Linked DNA regions of Homo sapiens: region 2 is linked to region 1. Evidence: fine-mapped expression QTL. Tissue or cell type: whole blood. Region 1 holds a variant in brackets; the other region holds the start of a gene. All regions are shown on one strand. Distances are from middle to middle.

The links. PIP is the estimated chance that this variant, and not a neighbour inherited with it, causes the effect.
Region 2: UBE3A starts here. The variant in region 1 is fine-mapped to the expression of UBE3A in whole blood (INTERVAL, PIP above 0.99).

What each region holds. Positions count from the first base shown.
Region 1 is chr15:25,247,046-25,255,045 of GRCh38, reverse strand. It overlaps SNHG14 (small nucleolar RNA host gene 14), which reads right to left. Exons shown (of 148, transcript NR_146177.1): 134 at 7,758-7,889; 135 at 7,330-7,374; 136 at 5,899-6,032; 137 at 4,235-4,365; 138 at 3,827-3,870; 139 at 2,713-2,821. SNORD115-42 (small nucleolar RNA, C/D box 115-42) reads right to left here and starts at 7,701; the gene lies at 7,620-7,701. SNORD115-43 (small nucleolar RNA, C/D box 115-43) reads right to left here and starts at 5,848; the gene lies at 5,767-5,848. SNORD115-44 (small nucleolar RNA, C/D box 115-44) reads right to left here and starts at 4,187; the gene lies at 4,106-4,187. The variant G/A (reference allele first, on the strand shown) is at 3,856.
Region 2 is chr15:25,435,928-25,443,927 of GRCh38, reverse strand. UBE3A (ubiquitin protein ligase E3A) reads left to right here and starts at 4,904. Exons shown (of 13, transcript NM_130839.5): 1 at 4,904-5,439. RefSeq lists enhancers at 3,897-4,842, 4,843-5,788 and silencers at 4,640-4,979, 5,340-5,759.

The DNA of each region.
Region 1 (8,000 bases):
TATTCTGCAGAGTGCTCTCTGAGCTTCCTGAACATGTGGGTTTCTGTCCATCATTAATTTTAGAAAGTGCTCAAGTCATTGTTGTGTCAAATATTTCTTTTCCTTTATCTCCTTATTCTCCTGACATTGTCACTATGCATTTTTACACTTTTTGAAATGCTTCCAGAGTTCTTGGATATTTTTTACTTTCTCATTCTTTTTTCCCTCTGCATTGCAATTTGGAAATTTGTATTGATATTTCTTCAAGGGAACTAACTCCTCCTACAATATAAGCAAGAGCATTGATGAGCACAAAAAAAGGCACTTATTGTAAATTCTATGCACTGTAAATTCTATACACTGTAAATTCTATACACTGCTGTTGACGTCAAGCCTTTTCTAATGATTCTGTCCTAGAGTTTCCTTCTCCCGACTTACATTACCTACCTGTTATTCCTTGTTACCTACTTTCTACCTTAGAGCACTCAGCATGTAACTCATGTTGTATTAACCCTATCATGTGATTACTGCAACATTTCAGCCAATACCAATCTAATTCTTTAGCTAGATCTTCCACTTCAGAAGGTGTTCTTTAAATTTCTAAGCATTGCAATTTGTATTGAAGGCAAAACATGATATAAGGAGAAACGCAACTGAGACAATCCATTATCGAAAGATTTTATATTTCTTTGAAAAACCATCAATATGATAAGGTCATATCAATGAATTTCTGTGGTTATATCAAAATAAATGTCCTCTGCTGTGCTTGTCTACTTTCTCGTCTTTAGATTTCCATACAATCTGTTTCAGTAAAGTAGGAGATAGGCAGTGCATTCAACTGTAGTCCCCAATTAAAAAAAAAACTGGCAAAAATTATGCACAATCATATAATGTACAGAAAAAAAGCATATTTCTGAACAACTACAATGAGACTGTGTATTCCAACTAAAACACTATCAAATTAGGAAGTAAATAAAAATGAAAAATACCACCACCAATAAAACATTTGCTGCTGCCTTTGTGAAAGTAAAATACACAAAGCGGTAAAAAATACAAAGAGAACACACAAAAAGCACTGAAGAAAATGAAATACAAAGAGCTGCCACAACACCCATCACATAACCTCTCCTCGAGACAAAATAAGGTTCTCATCATCAACCTAACCGAGGGCACCCCCGTCACCGTGCAGGTAACCAGCGGGACCTGGACAAGCTCACCACCGCTCAATGCAGGACACCAGGCTGCCAAGAAAAGCCCAAGCTCCAGCACACCAAGGGCTGTGCACCTGGCTGACAGACACTGTCCTGATGAAAGGTGACAGCGTGCTGGCAGTCCTCACAGCCCTCACTTGCTCTTGGCGCCTCCTCTGCCTGGGCTCCCACTTTGGTGGCACTTGAGGAGCCCTTCAGCCCACTGCTGCACTGTGGGAGCCCCTTTCTGGGCTGGCCAAGGCCGGAGCCTGCTCCCTCAGCTTGCAGGGAGGTGTGGAGGGAGAGGCGCAAGTGGGAACCGGGGCTGCGCGGGGCGCTTGTGGGCCAGCTGGAGTTCCGGGTGGGTGTGGGCTTGGCGGGCCCCACACTCGGAGCAGCGGGCCGGCCCTGCCGGCCCCAGGCAATGAGGGGCTTAGCACCCGGGCCAGCAGCTGCAGAGGGTATACTGGGTCCCCCAGCAGTGCCAGCCCACCGGCGCTGCACTTGATTTCTCACCGGGCCTTAGCTGCCTTCCCTCGGGGCAGGGCTCGGGACCTGCAGCCTGCCATGCCTGAGCCTCCCACCCCCTCCATGGGCTCCTGTGCAGCCAGAGCCTCCCCGACGAGTGCCGCCCCCTGCTCCACGGTGCCCAGTCCCATCAACCACACAAGGGCTGAGGAGTGCGGGCGCATGGCGCAGGACTGGCAGGCAGCTCCACCTGCAGCCCCAGTGCGGGATCCACTGGGTGAAGACAGCTGGGCTCCTGAGTCTGGTGGGGCCTTGGAGAACCTTTATGTCTAGCTCAGGGATTGTAAATACACCAATCGGCACTCTGTATCTAGCTCAAGGTTTGTAAACACACCAATCAGCACCCTGTGTCTAGCTCAGGGTTTGTGAATGCACCAATCGACACTCTGTATCTAGCTTCTCTGGTGGGGCCTTGGAGAACCTTTATGTCTAGCTCAGGGACTGTAAATACACCAATCCGCGCTCTGTATCTGGCTCAAGGTTTGCAAACACACCAATCAGCACTCTGTGTCAAGCTCAGGGTTTGTGAATGCACCAATAGACACTCTGTATCTAGCTACTCCGGTGGGGACTTGGAGAACCTTTGTGTCAACACTCTGTATCTAGCTAATCTAGTGGGGACATGGAGAACCTTTGTGTCTAGCTCAGGGATTGTAAACGCACCAATCAGCGCCCTGTCAAAACAGATCACTCAGCTCTACCAATCAGCAGGATGTGTGTGGGGCCAGATAAGAGAATAAAAGCAGGCTGCCCCAGCCAGCAGTGGCAACCCACTTGGGTCCCCTTCCAAACTGTGGAAGCTTTGTTCTTTCACTCTTTGCAATAAATCTTGCTACTGCTCACTCTTTGGGTCCACACTGCTTTTATGAGCTGTAACACTCACCGCGAAGGTCTGCAGCTTCACTCCTGAAGCCAGCGAGACCACAAACCCACCAGAAGGAAGAAACTCCGAACACATCCGAACATCAGAAGGAACAAACTCCAGACATGCCACCTTAAGAGCTGTAACACTCACAGCGAGGGTCCGCAGCTTCATTCTTGAAGTCAGTGAGACCAAGAACCCACCAATTCCGGACACACTGGGACCAGCGGGCCGAACGCAAGTCCTCCTCCGGGCTCACCACCTGGTGGGACAAGAGGAAGACAGCTGTCCACACAGGGCCTCACAGCTCCATGAGAAGAAGTGGGAAGGGGGCGCTGGCTCACGCATGCTCATCCTCTATGGACCCACGTAATGGGATCCACGTGGAACACTGACCCATCACGGATGCAGGGCACCCTTGGCCCTCCCTGCCACAAAATCCTGGAAAGACAGGGCAAGCAGGTCACTGGGATCAGGCAAGATGCCTGGGCTGCACCCTACTGCAGGCCCCAAGAGCACCTCCACTGCCTGGGCCAGCTCCACTCAACCACCCCAGGGCCACACCAGGACCACGGGGCATGGGCCAGGGCAACCAAGCAGCTGATGGCCAACCAAGGAGGCTGGTCCTGATGCCAGGAGCCAATGCAGACCTGGCAGTCGCAGAGCCTGCCCTTGGGCATGGTGGGTGCCGGCCCTGGTGCCCACTCCAAGCAGGCACTGGAAATCAAAGCCTGGGGGCCTCCAGAGCCACATGCTTTCTATGGTGAGTCCCCATCAACGACTCAACCCCAGGGAAAAAAACACCACCCCCCATCAGGCTCCAGGAGGCCCACTGGAATGGCGTATTTCTCAATGGACAATTCCAATCAGGGCCATGGGTGAGGCACCATCCTTGAATCTCCATGACCCAACCCCAAGGGCAGATTCAAGCACCACACTCCATGGACAAAGAGCTCCCCTCTAACCCCCTCAGATGGCCTGAGAAATCCTCCAGGCCTGACCTGAGCACTGAGTCTCAACAGAACGCTGCGCTGGGTGGGGCTGAAGGAACTCTTTCCTGCCTGGACCACCGTCACTCCTGCAGAGATCAGGGAAGTTATCCTCCTTGGGTCCAATTCCCAAAAAAGCGGCCCTCCTGGAGAACCCATACCTCTCTGATGGGAATTCAGGTTGGTTCCCTGAGGAAACCCTCTTATCCCAAAGGCTGACCCTTGGTGACCCCACATGGACCGGTTCATGGCCCATGACACAAGCAGGATCCACTCACCTATGCCAGTCAATGCCGGGGGCCCGCCC[G/A]GGTGGAAGAGCTCACTGAAAGACACAAGGGGAGAATGGGGGCTCAGGAAGGAGCCACCAACCGGCCCCAACCCCGGGGAACAGGAGCCCGACACCAAGCCCCCTCAGGGAGCCTGGGCTGCCTCCTGGAGGAGCAGAGAGACAGGGTTGGACCTTCCAGATGGCCCTCAGGGCCTGCAGGTGTCCAGCGCAAAATACAGTGGCCATTCCGGGGAGCCCAGTGTCCTCTTCCAAAATTCTCACCTAGGCTGGGCCTCAGCGTAATCCTATTGAGCATGATTTTTAAGTCATCACCGCTCTTCAGGACAATATAAGGTTCTCATCATTGACCCAACCAAGGGCAACCCCCACCCCAAGCATGCATCCATGTGCTCACCACAGCTCAGTGCAGGAGACCAGGGTGCCAGGGAGGGTCCAAACTCCAGAGCACTGGGGGATTAGCACCAGGCTGATGGACACTGGCCTGGGGCCTGTGGGGGTCCAACACAAGTCTTCCTCCAGACTCACCATCTGAAGGGACAGGAGGAGGACATGTGTCCAACCAGGGCCTCACATATCAGTGCAGGGAGGGTGGGTAGGGAATACCCATATGATGGGGATCCATGCAGAACACTGACCCAACATGGGCACAAGGCACCATTGGCCCTCCTGGCCACCAAACCTTAGAAAGACAGGGTAAGTGGGTCACTGGGCTGGGGCAAGATGCCTGGGCTGCACTCTACTGCAGGCCCTGAGAGCACCTTCACGGCCTGGGCCAGCTCCCCTGAACAACCCCAGGGCCACACCAGGACCATGGGGCATGGGCCAGGGCAACCAACCTGCTCCTGGCCAACCAAGGAGCCTTGGCCAATCAGGAACCACATGGTGTCCTCTCCTTTTCTTGGACTCAAGACCCCACTACCCTGGAGGTGACCCCATGGCTCAGAAGCAGCCTGGATGGCAAATTTCCAGGACAGGTCCCTGAGCAGCAGGCCTTCCCACCATAGGAGGCTACCCTTTCCACCACTGGACCTCAAGGAAGGGATGACACCAGCGGGACACAAGCTGCCCCCTTGGCCCAAGGAAGGGCCGGCCTGCAGTACCACCAGGCGCCCAGTCAGAGCTCAGCTTTGACTCAACCTTATTGAAACAGCAACCCACCCCCAACAGGCTCAAGGAGGCGCCATTAAGATGGCCCATTACTCAACAGAGTTGGTCCCATTCAGGGCCAGGGGTGGGGGCATTCCTTGAATCTCCGCCACCTGACTGTGGGCCCAATCACCCACCACTCTTCAGGGAGGGAGAACTCCAGTGTGAGCCCCAGGGAGCCCCAGAGCTTCTGTGTCCCCCATCATGAAGCCTGGGCAGTCCTCAAGGCCTGACGAGCCCACCAAATTTCAGCTGGGAGCTGCTGTATGTTGGGCTGAAGGAACGCTTTCCTGCCTGGACCACCATCACCTTTGCAGGGCTTCAGGAAATGCGTGCTCCTAGGGTCAGATTCCCAAGGAAGTGACCCTACTGGAGCAATGTTCCCTCCCCGGGGGCACCTGGAGAAAACGCTAGTGGCCTGAAGGCTGACCCTCGATGACCCCACACTGCCTCATTTATGGCCCATGACCGCAACAGGATACACTCACCTATACTGCTTAAGGGCATGGGCCCCACCTGGGCAGAAGAGCTCAATAGAAGACACAGGGGAGAACGTGGGCTCAGGAAGGAGCTGCCAACATGCCCTATCCCCAGGAAGCAGAGCCTGGACACCAAGTCAACACAGGGAGCCTGGGCTGCCTCACGGAGGGGCACAGAGACAGGGCTAGGACCCCTGAGATGCCCTTTGGGGCCTCAAGTTCTTCAGTATAAAATACAGTGGCTAGTGGCCCTGCCGGGGATCTTGGCATCCCAGCGCTCCCTTCCAAAATTCTCACCTAGCCTGGGCCTCAGCGTAATCCTATTGAGCATGATTTTTAAGTCATCACCTCTCTTCAGGACAATATAAGGTTCTCATCATTGACCCAATCAAGGCCCTCCCCATGCATGCATCCAGCAGAACCTGGATGTGCTCACCACAGCTCAGTGCAGGAGACCAGGGTGCCAGGGAGGGTCTGAGCTTCAGCGCACTGGGGGATGAGCACCAGGCTGACAGACACTGGCCTGGGGCCTGTAGGGTCCCAATACAAGTCTTCCTCCAGGCTCACCATCTGGGGTGGTGACAGGAGAAGGACATGTGTCCAACCAGGGCCTCACATATGAGCGAGGGGAATGTGGGTAGGGGATACCCATGTGATGGAATCCATGAAGAACACTGACTCATCACAGACACAGGGCACCATTGGCCCTGCTGGCCACCAAACCTTGGAAAGACAGGGAAGGTGGGTCACTGGGCTGGGGCAAGATGCCCTACTGCAGGCCCCAACAGCACCTCCACTGCTCGGGCCGGCTCCCCCGAACAACCCCAGGGCCGCACTGGGACTATGGGGACGGGTGAGGGCAACCAACCTGCTCATGGCCAACCAGCGAGTCTGGCCCTAACACCAGGAGCCAATGCAGACCTGGCCATTGCAGAGCCTACCCTGGGCATGGTGGGTGCCCACCCTGGTGCCCTCTCCAAGCACACACCAGAAATCAAAGCCTGGGGGCCTCCAGGGCCACGTACTTTCTCTGGTGGGTCCTCATCTTGCCCTACACCTCCCACACACAGAGCCAGGTCCCACTTGGTCAATAAGAAACCACATGGTGTCCTCTCCTTTCCTTGGGATCAAGACCCTACCACCCTGGAGGTGACCCCGTGGCTCAGAAGCAGCCTGTGTGGCAAATTCCCAGAACAGGTCCCTCGACAGCAGGACTTCCCACCTCAGGAGGACATCCTTTCGGCCACTGAATCTCAAGGAAGGGGAGACCCCAGAGGGACGTGAGCTGGCCCCTTGTCCCAAAGACCACAACCCCCAGGGCTGCCTGCAGCACCACCAGGCACCAGCCAGAGCTCAGCCTTGATTCAACTGCATTGAAACAGTGCCTCCCCCTACCAGGCTCAAGGAGGTACCACTGAGATGGCCCATTACTCAACAGGGTCGGTCCCATTCAGGGCCATGGATGGGGTGCAGTCCTGAATCTCCGGGGCCTGTCTGCGTGGGCCCAATCACCCACCACTGTCCAGAGAGGGAGAACTCCAGCGTGACCCCCAGGTTGCCCCAGAGCCCCTGTTGCCCACCTCATGTGGCCTGGGCAGTCCTCGAGGCCTGACCAGCCCGCTGAGTTTCAGCTGGGAGCTGCTCTATGTTGGGCTGAAGGAACCCTTTCCTGCCGGGACCACCATCACCTTTGCAGGGCTTCACGAAATGCATGCTCCTAGGGTCAGATTCCCAAGGAAGTGACCCTACTGGAGAAACATTCCCTCCCCGGTCGCACCCTGAGAAAACCCTAGTGGCCCGAAGGCTGACCATAAATGGCCCCATGCTGCCTCATTCATGGCCCATGACCCCAACAGGATACACTCACCTATGCCGCTTAAGGCCATGGGCCTCACCTGGGCAGAAGAGCTCACTGAAAGACATGGGGGAGAAAGCAGGCTCAGGAAGGAGCCACCAACATGCCCCACCCCCAGGGAACCAGAGCCCGGACACCATGCCCACACAGGGAGCCTGGGCTGCCTCATGGAGGGGCACAGAGATAGGGTTGGACCCCCCTGAGATGCCCTTCAGGGCCTCAAGTTCTCCAGCCCAAAATATAGTGGCCCTGCCAGGGATCTCGGGATCCCAGCATCCTCTTCCAAAATTCTCACCTAGGCTGGGCCTCAGCGTAATCCTATTGAGCATGATTTTTAAGTCATCACCTCTCTTCAGAACAATATAAGGTTCTCATCATCGACCCAACTGAGGGGATCAATCACCTCGTGCATGCATCCAGCAGGACCCGGATGTGCTCACCACAGCTCAGTGCAGGAGACCAGGGCGCGAGGAAGGGCCCGAGCTTCAGCGCATCAGGGGCTGGGCAACAGGCTGATGGCCACTGGCCCAGGAACAACAGGCCCAATGCAAGTCTTCCTCCGGTCTCACCATCTGGGAGAGAGGTGGAGAACATGTGTCCAAAGTTACCTCCATGTAGGGAAGGAGGTAGGACGTGCCAGTTCACACTTGCTTATCTTCCACGGACACATGTGATGAGAGCCA
Region 2 (8,000 bases), 190 kb before region 1:
TGATATCTTTGCTTGGATATTAAGACACAAGGTCAGCTGCAGTTAAAGGGATTTAGAATAACCATGGCAGATCATAGAAGTTAGTAGCTGTCTTACATCAGAGTTGACCTGGTACACAGGACCTGCCCAATGAAGTCCTCAGGGCCCCAACTTGTTGCTCTGCAATCCCTAGAATGTTTCCCAGTGTCTTAGTCTTGTTTATGCTGCTGTAACAAAATACCTGAAACTGGGAAATTTGTGAAGAACAGAAATATACTTTTTCACAGTTCTAAAGGCTGGGAAGTACAAGCTCAAGACCCCCAGCAGGTTTAGTGTCTGGTGAGGGCTGCAGTTTCCAAGGTGGGACCTTACTGCTATATCCTCTGGAGGGGGTGAATGCTGTGTCCTCGTGTGGCTAAAGGGATGGAAGGGCAAAAGAAGGCCTAAGCTAGTTCCCTCCAGTCCTTTTACAAGGTATTAATCCATCCATGAGGCAGGGCCCTCATGATTTCATCAGCTGTTAGTATCATCACAATGGGGATTAAGTTTCAACATGAATTTTGAAGGGGACACCATCATTGAAACCACAGCATCTTTCAACATGGTTTACTACCCCAACTATTTAATACATACATTCATCAGAAAAGGACAAAAGAAAGGGCAAGTGACACCCAATTTCTTTTAGAAAATGATCTGGAAGTTGCATACATAATTTCTGCTCACATCCTACTGGCCAGAACTTAAGAGATATGGCCACACTTAAGGGTGTATTATAGGCAACCATGTGTCTGGCTAGATGTTCTATTATCATGGATAAAGAGCAGAATGCATAAGAGTCAGCTAGGAAGCAGTTTGTACAACAGATATCCAACAGGTATCTCAAATTTAACATTACCAAAACTAAATTCCTGCTTGTTCTCCCAAAACCTGCTCCTTTGCACTGTTATCACATCTCAGTCCATGGTGGAAGACAGAACAAACTCAGGGGTTTGATGTTAATCATGTTGAGCTTGAGGTGCCTGTAGAACACCCAGTACAGGTTTCCAATAAGGGGTTGAAGATACTGTGTCTGATGCTTCTGACTGAGATCTGTGTTCAAGATTCAGACTTGATTCCTGACTGAAATAAGTGATAGAAGAGTATACGTAAATGGTACTGTCAAAGATTATAACATGGTAGGCAGAGAACCAAGAATGGGGAGGGAGGATTCTGCACAGGAGACCTGAGAAAGAGTGGCCTAAGACAAGGCAGAAGAGCAGAGAATGTAAGGTGACAGAACCAAGGGAGCAGTTTCCAGGAGGCAGTGGTCAGCAGTGTGGAAGGCTGCAGAGAGATCAGATGTTATGAAAACTGAGAAGCAACCTTTCAATTTGGCCATTATGCCACAGTGAAATTGATACAAGCAATGTATACAGTAAAATGGAGGGAGCTGCTAAATTTCTGTAGTTGAAGAGGAATTTGGAAGGTAATAGCAATCTAAGTATAGACAGCTTTTCTAAATAGAAGGGACAAAGTAGAGGGAGAATTTATGAACAGGAGTGGGAATATTTAAGGGAGTAAGAGTCTTGAGTCAATCTCTCTTCCCTCAAGAAATAAAAATTACCTGTAGAAAGGACAGAAGGATGGCTTCTACCTTAAGACTCGAGGTCAGAAAGAATGCAAATTTAGACAGGTCTGCAGGCATAAGGGTGGGGGTATGTAGGAGTTCATGCCTGATGTGTGCAGTACTAAACAATGATACATATACTACTACTACTACCACTACTAAGCACTAACATTTACTGAGCACTTATCATATGCCAGTGTTCTTCATGGAGCTAAGTTTGCTTAACAGTATTTCTTAAATAATGGGAGCTATTCATATATTGAAAGCTTAGTGTTTTTCAGAAGTTGAGTGTGTAACATTTGGATGTGGCCTAAAAATAGCAACCGTGACTTCTATCCCACCATATCTGAATTTTGTCTCTTCCATGCTCGACTTATTTCTGATCCTGGGGCATGCTGAGTAGTAAAAAAAGTTGTTCTTGCATTTTGATTCATCTGTTATGACTGGCATCAATAAGAAATCTTCAGCAATAAAACAGCTCTGTCAAAAAACAACTTCACCAGCAATTTAGGGCAAAATGTTTCCTTTAAAAAAAAGTTTGTTGGCTGGGCATGGTGGATCATGCCTGTAATCCCAGCACTTTGGGAGGCCGAGGCGGGCGGATCACGAGGTCAGGAGATCGAGCCCATCCTGGCTAACACGGTGAAACCCCGTCTCTACTAAAAATACAAAAAATTAGCCAGGCGTGGTGGCGGGTGCCTGTAGTCCCAGCTACTTGGGAGGCTGAGGCAGGAGAATGGCATGAACCTGGGAGGTGGAGCTTGCAATGAGCCAAGATTGCGCCACTGCACTCCAGCATGGGCGACGGAGCAAGACTCTGTCTCAAAAAAATAATAATAATAATAAAATAAAAAGTTTGTTAGTATTAGCAGATACATATTACTAGGTACCCCCCATGCTCAATGAAGTGTTGGGTTACTCTGAAAAAGTGTCCAATCTTACAGGTGTGACTTCCTCTGGAACTGCAAGTTCTTGAGGGCAGGGATAGAGATTGTTCATCTTTTATTGTTTCCCAAGGTCTGGCACATAAATAGTAGTTCAAGTAGTCCAACATATGACACATAAATAGTTCTGGGTAAACATTAGCTCAAAGTTTGCTCAAGGCATTGATGCAGATGCTTATAAAATTAAATTGCTCTTTTTACTGTATACCTGAAATGAGAAAATTATTAGAAACTACTGGGTCTCATTTGGACTAGAAAAGTCTGAAGAAATCACTGTTCACTTAGTAGATACAAAGTTGTTTTTCTGGGAAAAACACACCTAAAAAAAAAAAAACACATGGGTCTGATATGGGAGAATTTTTTTATTTTTCATATAAACAGGTGTATAGGGAAGTGGAACACTGCTAGTATCTTAAGGATTCCTGAAAGTATTTATGTTGGTAAGTTTGATGAGCAAACATTTCTAAATTTGAAAATGGATAAAACAAAAAGCACAGTGAAATCTTGAAAGAATTCTAATACTAATGTCACACATAAGAATACAGATTTAAAATTAATGAACTAAAACGGATATACGTAATTTCTCCAGGAGGAATTAAGATCCTCCTTGATCTCAGTAAAGCAATGAATAGTCATTCTGACATCTAGCTAAAAGCAGACTTATTTCCCTTCGGTCTTTAATCTTTTTGGAACTCAGGGATTTCCGCCACACTTTGATACACCAGGCCATTATAAAATTACACTTAATTTATTGTCAATTTCTACTTAAAAGGAAGAATACCTATAAGTATCTCCATATGCTAGATATAGTAGAAATGGTATGCTTTAATTAGTCCAACAATAAAGTCCTTAAAGATTTACATTCTTTGTTGCCTATTTTGAAAACTTGCGAAGATAAATTTTTTTAAAGATTATAATTCTTACTAGTCCTTTCCATGAAATATAACAGCAAATAGTTTCCAAATGTGGATGTGTAATGAGAGGAAATGAAAAGTGAGTAAAGAGCTGAGTTAAAACATCTTAAAATCGAATATGGCTTAATACTATCATTATCATCAGTTGTCCTGGAATAACTTAAATTCTTCTAGCTTATTGTTGGTTTTTCAATGGTTGGTTATAGTTGTGAGGCGGATACACACACACACCCACACACTTGGCTATACAAAAAAGATGTTCCGAGACTGACAGTTAAAAATTACACTGCTGGCCGAGCACTGTGGCTCATGCCTGTAGTCCCAAAACTTTGGGAGGCCGAGGTGGGAGGATCACTTGAGGCCAGGAGCTCGAGACCAGCCTGGGCCTAACATAGCAAGACACCATTTCTAAGTTTAAAAATAAAAATAAATTTAAAAAAGATACACTGCTATGTACGACTGTTGATATAAAAAATCTGAATACTAGACATGGGTACTCATCTAGTACTTCAAGGGCTTATCAACAAAGTTGCAAGTTGTAACACTATGAATTGTTAGTGATACTCTTTTGGCTTTGCTAGCAAGTGTTGTAAAGCTATACACACACACACACACACACACACACATACACACACACACCTTTTAAAATGGTGACCCTGGTACCAAATATGACTTTAAATGGATTTAATTTTAATGGCTTTAACTACGTTCAGCTGTCATATGGATCAAAATTAGCCTCTATCCAGCTGGGGTCAACCAGGGAGCCACTTTTCTTAACCGACGACCTACTGAACGTCAACAACTGCAGGAGACGGGACTTTACCTTCGTCTCTGGTAAACTAGTTGACACATCCTGTGTTGGCAAGAGGCCTAAGTAGATGACCTTGGTCCTCTAAAATCTGGCCTGCACTCTCGGGGCACCCCTGCAACATCTACAAAGGCAGCTCCAGATAGAAAAGGGTTGGGGTCGAAAAGCCAATAACGGCAGGCACCTGCCCCGCCTCGGGGCTGGGGGGCTATTCCAGCGGCTTCAGCTAACTTTCAGAGCCATTCGTTTCCCAACAAAGTCTGAGGCGTTCCTCTGCTGGGTACACCAAGGGGCTCTGCAACCCTCCTGGGGGGGGGGGTGCCCAGAGGGCTTCCGGAAGTCCCAGGTTTATTCTTTCGGGTCACAGACAGCAGAAACTAAAAAGAGGGATTACCCTTTCTGTCCAGTCGCAAGATGGCGACCGAGCCTGGTGGGACTCCGAGGGGCCGCAGGCCACCTCCTCTTCCCAATGGCCCGTGCGCCGGCGGCGACGGCAAGCGGGAGGGAGGCGGGGCCGGCGAAGGAAGGAGGGGCGGAGCGCGGCGCCCTCCCGCGCGTCTTGGCCCCGCCCCACGTCCCCGCGTCCCGGCCTGGAGCCCTCGCCCGGCCGGGCGGCGCGCGCTGCCTGCCGGGATACTCGGCCCGCCCAGCCAGTCCTCCCGTCTTGCGCCGCGGCCGCGAGATCCGTGTGTCTCCCAAGATGGTGGCGCTGGGCTCGGGGTGACTACAGGAGACGACGGGGCCTTTTCCCTTCGCCAGGACCCGACACACCAGGCTTCGCTCGCTCGCGCACCCCTCCGCCGCGTAGCCATCCGCCAGCGCGGGCGCCCGCCATCCGCCGCCTACTTACGCTTCACCTCTGCCGACCCGGCGCGCTCGGCTGCGGGCGGCGGCGCCTCCTTCGGCTCCTCCTCGGAATAGCTCGCGGCCTGTAGCCCCTGGCAGGAGGGCCCCTCAGCCCCCCGGTGTGGACAGGCAGCGGCGGCTGGCGACGAACGCCGGGATTTCGGCGGCCCCGGCGCTCCCTTTCCCGGCCTCGTTTTCCGGATAAGGAAGCGCGGGTCCCGCATGAGCCCCGGCGGTGGCGGCAGCGAAAGAGAACGAGGCGGTGGCGGGCGGAGGCGGCGGGCGAGGGCGACTACGACCAGTGAGGCGGCCGCCGCAGCCCAGGCGCGGGGGCGACGACAGGTCAGTGTTGCCGCGGCCTGCGCCAGGCGGCGCTGGCTCCCCTCCGTCACTCGGCCGGCCTTCGGGGCCCGCTGTGGCGAGGTCGACACCCCCCTTCCCCGCCCCCCGCCGCCGAGGCGAGTGTTTGGGGGCGCGTGGTCCGAAGGGGCTGGTGCCAGAAGTAGGCCCCTGGTGGCCGCGGCTGCTGCAGCCGTAACTGTCAGTCCTGGCTGAGCGACGGCGGGAGGGTTTTGTCGCCCGAGGGGACGCGAGCGGGCCCGGGGCGGGGCGGGACGTGCGAGGCGTCGAGATTTGGGCCTCCTAGGAGCCAGGCTCTTCGAGCCAGCCGGGGCCCCAGACAGGGAAGGGCAGGCCCTTTCCTTCAAAGGGGAGCCCTTTCTCGGCGTTTTCAAGGTTTTTGGCTCTCTTGGGGAAGACATATTTAGCCGTGTGCTTGGTGGGTTGGGGTTTTGGGGGTGGATTGATGGGAAGGGAGGGCGGATGAAGTGGTATGTCAAGCCCAAGGGTTGTGCGCACAGGTTACTCTGTGTTACCGGCCACCAGGATTTCTGAAGTTGAACGTGAGTTATTGGCTTTGCCAGAGACTGCTGTGTTATATGCAGACCTGTATGCAAGCAGTTGGCCTTTTTTCCCCCCCCTTTTCAGTGTAGAAAATGAAAAGGATGCTTTCCTCATCTTGGTGGTAAAGGCTTTTGTTGGTAAAGGTAGAATTGAATGTACCAAATGCCTTAGTCCGTAAAATTTTAGAAATAATTTTAATACAGACACTGGTGAAGCTTGGCAACCTTGAAAGAGAATTTAGCGTCTACATTTTTTAAATGACTTTTTATGGATATGCTAAATTAGTAACAGTCCAAAATCTGTTTGAGATTATTAAGTGGCGAGGGTGCTGTTGAAAATGTAAACTAATAGCATATGGGGTTTACAGTGCACAGTTAACCTCAATCATGAAGAAATGTGGATATGACCCGTAATTTTGGATCATTTTACTGCCTGCAATATTGAGAGAAGCAGCAAATTATTACAGTTTTTTTTGGGAGACGACCTAAAGTTTAAGAAATACAACTGTTGAAAGTTACCTGTCAGAGACACAAAGGTACCCAATCAATCTTGTTGAATAAATTGGACAAGTGGGATAAGGTGTTTGTCTCACACTTCTGATCAATAAGTACTCTTACTTAAGAAGTGATTTGGTAAATCATGTAAAATTTAGAATTTAGGAGAGATAAGAAAGTTGTAACTTGGTGTGTATAGTGGAAATAGCTTTGAAATTAGATCCTGTTTTTAAATCCAAGCTACTTACCACATTTTTAGTGAAATGAATACATTATTAATGATGCTACTGATAAGCCCTAAGGATGACCAGAAGCCCTTTTAAGAAACACTAATACAGTTGACCAAAAAATAAAAAAGGAAATAGCTTCAAGAAATAATTTTCAATCTTTGTGTATTTATAATATACACAGGAGAAATAAAAGAACAGAATATGAAGAGGTAACTTATAATCTTTACAAAATTAGAATGTAAACTATGCTAGTCTTACTGTGTCAATATTTATTAACCTGCATTAGTTTGCTAAGTAGTATGCTCACTATCCTCTGGACATTGCCCCTGTCCCTGAGGAGCTTAACTTTATACAGAGATACAAAATACTGTGTTTTGATTTCCTTTCAGAGGATTTATAAGCTACTTATGTTTTATCTGTCCTAAATTCTGCCCTTTTTTTTCCCATGGCTGAAAAAATAACTTCCTAAGAAAGGTACATACTAGTCAGAGGTGTGGGGAAAACGTGTTCTCATCCCACTTGTGCAGTCCATTTAACAGGATTTATTGGGTACCTACAGTGTCTTTGACATGTAACATTTAATCAGTTGTATTTCTTAAACTTTAGATAATTTCTATTTCGATCATTTCTATTTCAATCTCCTCCCTCTCCCCTCCAAAAAAATTTACTGTGTAAACTGTGATAATACACTGTTTCTCTCAGTGTCAGTCAGTGGAATGATCCAGATTTATAGGTCATAGCAAAATTTTTCATCCCAAGCTCTTGAAATGATGTTTCCAAATGTCCATTTTCTTAAATGACTGCTAGTTATGTTCTCCAATCATGTTACACATATTTTGTTTAGACTTATAATTGTGTAGGTCTAAATGTAGAAACATTACATTATGTACATATGCAGCTGCTGAAAGAAAATTAGTTTTCTAATTTTTAGATCGGGGTGAAGACAAACTTTTAGAAGTGATCTTTCGGTAAAATACTGGATGAAGTCTTAGGTGCTCTTTTTATGTTGGTTCAGGACAAAAGTTTTTTGACTGCTTTTTGAGTTTTCCCCTCACTGCCAAATGTAAGGATAAAATGTAGTAACAAGACATCTTGGTATGTATAGTGGTAATATCTTTGGAATTAGACCCTAATTTTAATTCTGGCCTTATTAATCTTGGTAAGCCACAGTTTTGTCATCTGTAAAATGGGTTGGTGAAACTTCCCCAGAGTTGTGAGGCTTAAAGTATGTAAAACGCCTAACACGTAGGCACTCAATAAGTATTACCTTAGAAAT